2 separate regions of the Homo sapiens genome follow, and region 1 is linked to region 2. Evidence: fine-mapped QTL for protein levels in blood plasma. A gene starts in region 2. The other region holds a variant in brackets. All regions are shown on one strand. Distances are from middle to middle. Region 1 has its middle 10 kb from the start of INSC. Region 2 holds the start of CALCB (calcitonin related polypeptide beta).

Evidence for each region. A credible set is the group of variants that fine-mapping cannot tell apart. PIP is the posterior inclusion probability: the model's chance that the variant is causal. Protein levels are from antibody-based Olink assays in UK Biobank. Linkage for the fine-mapping came from a reference panel and not from the study's own genotypes, which makes the PIPs less certain.
Region 1: its variant is the best candidate, but not a certain one, in a credible set for the plasma level of the CALCB protein (UK Biobank, PIP 0.68).

What each region holds. Positions count from the first base shown.
Region 1 is chr11:15,103,477-15,106,384 of GRCh38, reverse strand. No RefSeq gene overlaps it. Among named protein-coding and RNA genes, the nearest start is that of INSC, 10 kb to the left of the region's middle. The variant C/A (reference allele first, on the strand shown) is at 1,187.
Region 2 is chr11:15,072,220-15,075,048 of GRCh38, reverse strand. CALCB (calcitonin related polypeptide beta) reads right to left here and starts at 1,456. Exons shown (of 5, transcript NM_000728.4): 1 at 1,386-1,456; 2 at 245-339. The coding sequence starts at 330. RefSeq lists a silencer at 1-10 and an enhancer at 53-554.

The DNA of each region.
Region 1 (2,908 bases), 31 kb before region 2:
CTGCCTTCTAACCTTCATTAACCACACAGCAGCCTGAGTCATCCTTTAACAACGTAAATACGAGCTTGTCCTCCCTCACCTAAAACTCTTTAATTGCTTCTTACTACTGCACTTAGAAAAAAAAATGCAAACCTTTTCTTCTGACTCAAGAAACCCTACATAATTCTTCTCTCTTCTAGGGTCTCAAGTCACATCATCTTCTTGAGAGAAATCTTCCCTGACCTACAAAGAACCATCCCTGGTCATTCTCCTATGAATGCCACTTATCACTCTCTGAAATTCCCTTGATTGTTTATTTGTTTGATTACTGTCTGTCTCTCCCACCTTCCATACCATGAGAAAAGAGACCGTGTCTTCTAGTGCAGTAGCTAGCACACAATAGATATTAGTAAACTGCCATGGAATGGTTCAAGCATGGTAGAGGAAGTAGCTGCCCCATGTGTCAGAGCAAAGAGGGGCAGAGATCATCCAGGAACCAGGTGCAAAAAGAGAAAGAGAACCAACAGAAAACCCAGTCCTTAAAAGAAAGAGGACTTGGGTTTCCAATAATTTTCCCTGAGAAGGACATTCCCATCCCTGGTTTATGAGAACCAACAGCTTCCCTGTCCTGGGGGTCCCATGAGACACCTGTACATTCTAACAAGATTTTTCTTATTTCCCTTAAGCTGGCTTGAGCTTTCTACTTTTGCTTACCAATTTACAAGTCCTCACTTGTTCCCCCTCTGCATGTCTCCTCAGTGAAGACAGCTAAAAGAGAAGGCCCACCAGCAGAAAGCACACAGCACAGCGGATGAGGGCTTGAGGCTTATCTTTTATCTCTTTGACCTTGCACAAGTGTCTTTTCCTTCTCTGAATCTCCACACCTAAGTCCACAGCACCTGAGACCTAGTCCTTCCAGGTGTATCTGATGAGGACTCTGAGCTGACAGATGGTAAGGAAAGGGGCCATCTTTCAGGCAAAATGCATATTCTGTTCATTTTCATATTCCAGGCAGGTCCCAGTGGGAAAGAGGGCCACACGGCTGAAATTTGGACAACAATTTAATGAAGGCCTATTTATGTTCAGGGTTAAGAAAATAATAGCAAGTGGTTTGAAGCATGCGGGGACTGACAACTGCGGGAACCCATTACCACCACCAATTCTAGAGGGACAAGCAGGTAAATCACTTACTGGTGTTCCAGGGCAG[C/A]CTTGGAAGAGGCTACCCAGAAGAAACTGTGATCATAAAATCATAGCTCCAAAGAGAAATGGAGAAGAAATTCCCTAACCTGTCTCTGCTCCTTCCTCTGATCTCCAGCCAGTTCCTCTGCTGGCTGAACCCAATCAGGGAACAAGAGAGTCCAGGTGCTACGGTCTGAAGATCAGCTCTTCCAGATGCAGAGCAGAGCAGAGATGATAGAGAAGCTATGGGGGAGGATGCCCAGCTGAATGGTTTATAAGCAGAACCCAGAGAAAAACCAAGACCTACAAACTCTCTAAGTCCCCACAGACACTGCTTCATTTAAATCTCTGTATAGAAGCACTGAACTCCAGAAAGCCTCTAAATTGCCATAATGGTTTTGATAGGCCCAGATTTACAGCCCTTGGCTAAGGGCTTGCCAAAGGCAGAAGCTATGCTATCAAGCACTTGCAACAACTGAAATAGAAGCTTCCAGAAAAGTTTCACCAAGAGATGAAAAATCTGACAATTTGAATAATTGAAAAGCCTTAATGCAAACCCTCAGATAAATTATTGAGGATGTATTAGATTATTGAGGATCCATTATAAAGGATCCTTCTAATAGAAACCATGCCCAGCCCAGGACTTTGTAGGAAATAAAAAATTGATCTGTTTTAAATTCCCTACAATTAACACTACTCAAGATTTAAAACGCCGGCCCTCCAGAACCCATCTATGCCCAAGGCCCATGAGGATAGGGTAGTGAGGGTGGGGTGCAGAGAGAGACAGCTTTCAATCCAGAAGACTAAGTCCCTTCTAGGAGTAAGAACATTCCTAAAGAATGCTTCAGAACATGGTGACCTCACTACTGCCAGAGAAAGTCTAGTACAGAAAACATTAATGAATAAAGACCAATCCTATGCCTGGCACCATGCACATCACTAGGAATACAACCATGATTAAGGCAGGGTCTCTACCTTGGAGTCCTCACAACCTAGTAAATGGAGAAAGATATAAATAGACCATTCCCATAGGAGGAGTTAATTAAGGGAGAGATGAATTAAAATGTCCCAATATAATTGTGTATTTCTGCTTTATATACTGTCAGGCTATGTTATTAGGTGCATATACGTTTACAATTATTACATTCTGCTGGAAATGTTACATTTTGTTATCTTAAGATAGCCCTCATTATCTCTTAATGCTTTTTGTCTTATGGTCAATTTTAGTCAAATTAATATTAATTACACTGCCGTTATTTTAGTTAGTGTTTGCATGGTATATTGTATTTTCATTCTTTTTCTTTTGCCATTCTGTATTCTCATGTTTTAGGTAACTCCTGTAAAAAGCCTACAGTTAGATATTTTTTAAGCCTAGTCAATGTAAATGGAGGTGAAAGAGTTATGTATAATGCAAATCTGTGAGAAGAGCTTTCCCAAAAAAAGGAATCAGTGAAAGCAAATATTCTAAGGCAAGAGTATGGCTGGTATCTTTGAGCAAGAGCAGGAAGAACACTAAGGTGAAACAAAGGAGTGAGGGGAGTACGAGGTGAAGGCAGAGATAGGTAACGGCTGAAGCAATGCCTTTGAGTAGTGGAAAGGGGAGGGATCTGCTGCACAAATAAAAGAAATGGCTCCAGCTAGGGGCACAGAAAGTTAATCGATGGCAACCAAGGGAGAAGAGCACCTATGTTCAGATGCCAGTAGGTGTAGAGATGTTTTGTTAAGAGTCTGTGGAGGCTCTCTTCTGATT
Region 2 (2,829 bases):
AGCAAACTCCTTGCAGGCTGTGAGCCCCTGACTGACCCTCCCCAGGATAGGCAGCCAGGCTTCCTGGTCTCTGCTTCTTCCCCTGGGGATGTGGCCACCGCGACTCCCAGGGGACGGGCATGAGGCCAGGGTCCACCTGTGGGCACTGATTCACCAGGAGCCACGCGTGACTTCAGAGGCACAGAGCTGTCTGGTCCTAGGGGCAGTGGGAGCAGAAGGCGCCTCTGGCTCCAGGCTGTCTCACCTGAATGGCGCCGCCTGGAGGCTGCCCGCCTGGTACAGGACCAAGATACTGAGAGCCAGGAAGGGGGAGAACTTCCGGAAACCCATGCCGCCTCTCTGTAAAGGAAGGATGACGTTACTACTGCACCAGCACAGATCTAGGTTCCAGTCCTGCCTCTGCCACAACTGCCATGTGACCTTAGGCACGTTACTTCAGCTGCCTGAGCCTCTGTTCCCTTCATTTGCAGGAAGGGCTGCTGTGAATCTCAAGAGACACATTGCAGTGAGTGAATGGCTTGATAGAGCGGAAAAAGGTGTCCTAGGGGAAGGGTGGAGAGAAAGGATGAATTTTGGTTCTGTTTTGTTGAAGGCCAGGGAGAAGCCACACGCGCCCGTGCACACAAACAGACACTTCTGCCCTGATTTATGCCTAAACCAGGCGTGGACGCACCTTGCTGTAGACCTGCTCTCCCCTTCTCGCCTTCTCCTCTGCTGGGCTTCGCGCCAACGCATGCGAGGGGAAGGTGGGAAGGGTGGATTGGAAAGGAGCGCTCATTTCTCAGTCTTGGAACTGGGAAAAATTTTTAACGTGCCAGTTACGGGTGTCTCAGGACTCGCCCGCAAAGCCAGCCCTCTGCCGGAGCGCGTTTTAGCAGCAGATGCTGAGCAGCAGCTCCGCGAGGTGAGCGCCCAGGGTTCTAGTCCGCTAACAACACTGCCTTAGATCCGGACCGGAATCCCGGGAAGGCTCACCAGGGAGGCGCCTCAGAGGAAAGCTCAGGGTTCCGACCTCCCGGGAACGAAACATGCTCCCGAAGGACAAAGACGGCGCAGGGCGCTCCCGGACCCAACTCTGCAGAATCCTGCGCTCAGCCAGGCCCCAACGCCAGGGCTGCAGACCCGCCTACCTCCGCTCGCTGCGCTTCCAGCGCCCACGCTGAGCCATGGGGATGCTTGGGCTCCTCTCGCACTGGTAGGAGAAACTGCCAGGACAACCCTAACCGCTCGCCTTCTACGGGGCCTGGAAGAGAGCTAGGACCACCGCTGTAAGGTAGGACCAGATGGCGGCGGAGAGGCAGACAGGCAGATGGAGCAAACTGGATGAACTAGTCGAAGAAGCAGGTTATTCGAGTGAGCGGAATGGGGAATGGGAAGTTCCTCACCTGGCGACTAGAGTTTCAGGGCAGCGCGAGCGGCCGGTCGACCCGGGATGAACACCACACCTGCTGTGGGCGCCTTCCCCGCGGAGACCCCGCTCTTATTACAGAGATAGCTGGAGGGGGGGGGTCCCCACCAGCCCGCGCGGCCAATCCAAAGTGGCCAGGACTAGCCAATCAAAGGACCGACCGAGCTCCGATTGCGTCATAGCTCGCACTGCCGGCACTGGTACTCTGGAGCGGGGGCAGTCCGCCCCGCTGTCATTTTTTTCATTGAGGTCATTGCTTGGGAAGCTGGAGAGCCTGGGAGAGGACAGAGATTTTTCAACTAAGAGTCGGGGCAAGTCGAGGAGAGTTTGGCGTCACCTACAGTGAGGGGCCAGAGCTGCTCTCACCTCCTTGGCTCCTAAATTCCTGCCTCGCACTCCCTCCTGTCACGCCAGTGAGGGACCCGAATCCAGCCACCCGAACCCCCAGCGAGGTTGAGCAGTAGTAGTCCTGGGTTCTAAAGGGACCACAGCTGAAAGAGCCCACGGCAGGGAAGGAGGGGGGGGGAGGGAAAAGGGGAGGGAGGGGTCCTCAAAATTTGATCTTTTTGGACCACCTGGGGTGCTTCCCTGGATATCCTCCGACCCCTCGAGCCCTGGCAACCTGGGCACCCAAAGAAGGCTGTTTTGGTGCCAGTCTGGCAGCCAGCCCTTCTCCACCTCACTCCTCTGGGACGGGCAGGAGCCGAAGAGAGGTTGGGGAGAGGGCTAAACTGACATAGCCTGCATACAAGGCTCAGCATCCACCTCCTCCCTCTTCCCCTATATCCCCAAATCCTCGACCGCGGGTCCAGCATCCCCCACGCCAAGCCAGGACCCTCCACTGCTGCGCCGAAGTTGGCTTACACAGCTGCCCTGCAACTCTGCCACCTGTTTGCCAAGCTGCCTGGCGGAGATGGTCTATGCCCGGGTCTCTATCTCTCTCGTTCCACACCCCTACCCCACTTCGCTGAAGCGCCTGAGAGCTGAGCGCGCTGGGGTCCAGCTGCCACCCACGGAGGGGAGCAGGTGCTGCAGCGCGAGAGTCAGCCTGAGAATTTTCACACAAGTTCCACTCGCGACTACAGACCAGCCAGTGCGCGCATCATCACTCACATGGCAGGACCCCCACCACACGCTCTGCCTTCTGCATTCACAGACAGTCCATCAGACAGCCAGCACTCACTGGAACAGATGCGCCCTCACCAGCTGCTCCGAAAAGGGAGCGTGCGCAGGAACCCAAACTAACCACACCCATACCCGAAAGCAACCCCGTGTGTTTCTGTTTCCAAAAACAGGCGTGTTTTATGCAATTGGGGGTACATACTGTCCCCTAAACATGCACACCGACACATGCACGTCCACGCACACAAACTCGGCCTATCCATCTTTTCTGAAGGAAAGCCGGGTTCTGGGAGTCGGCA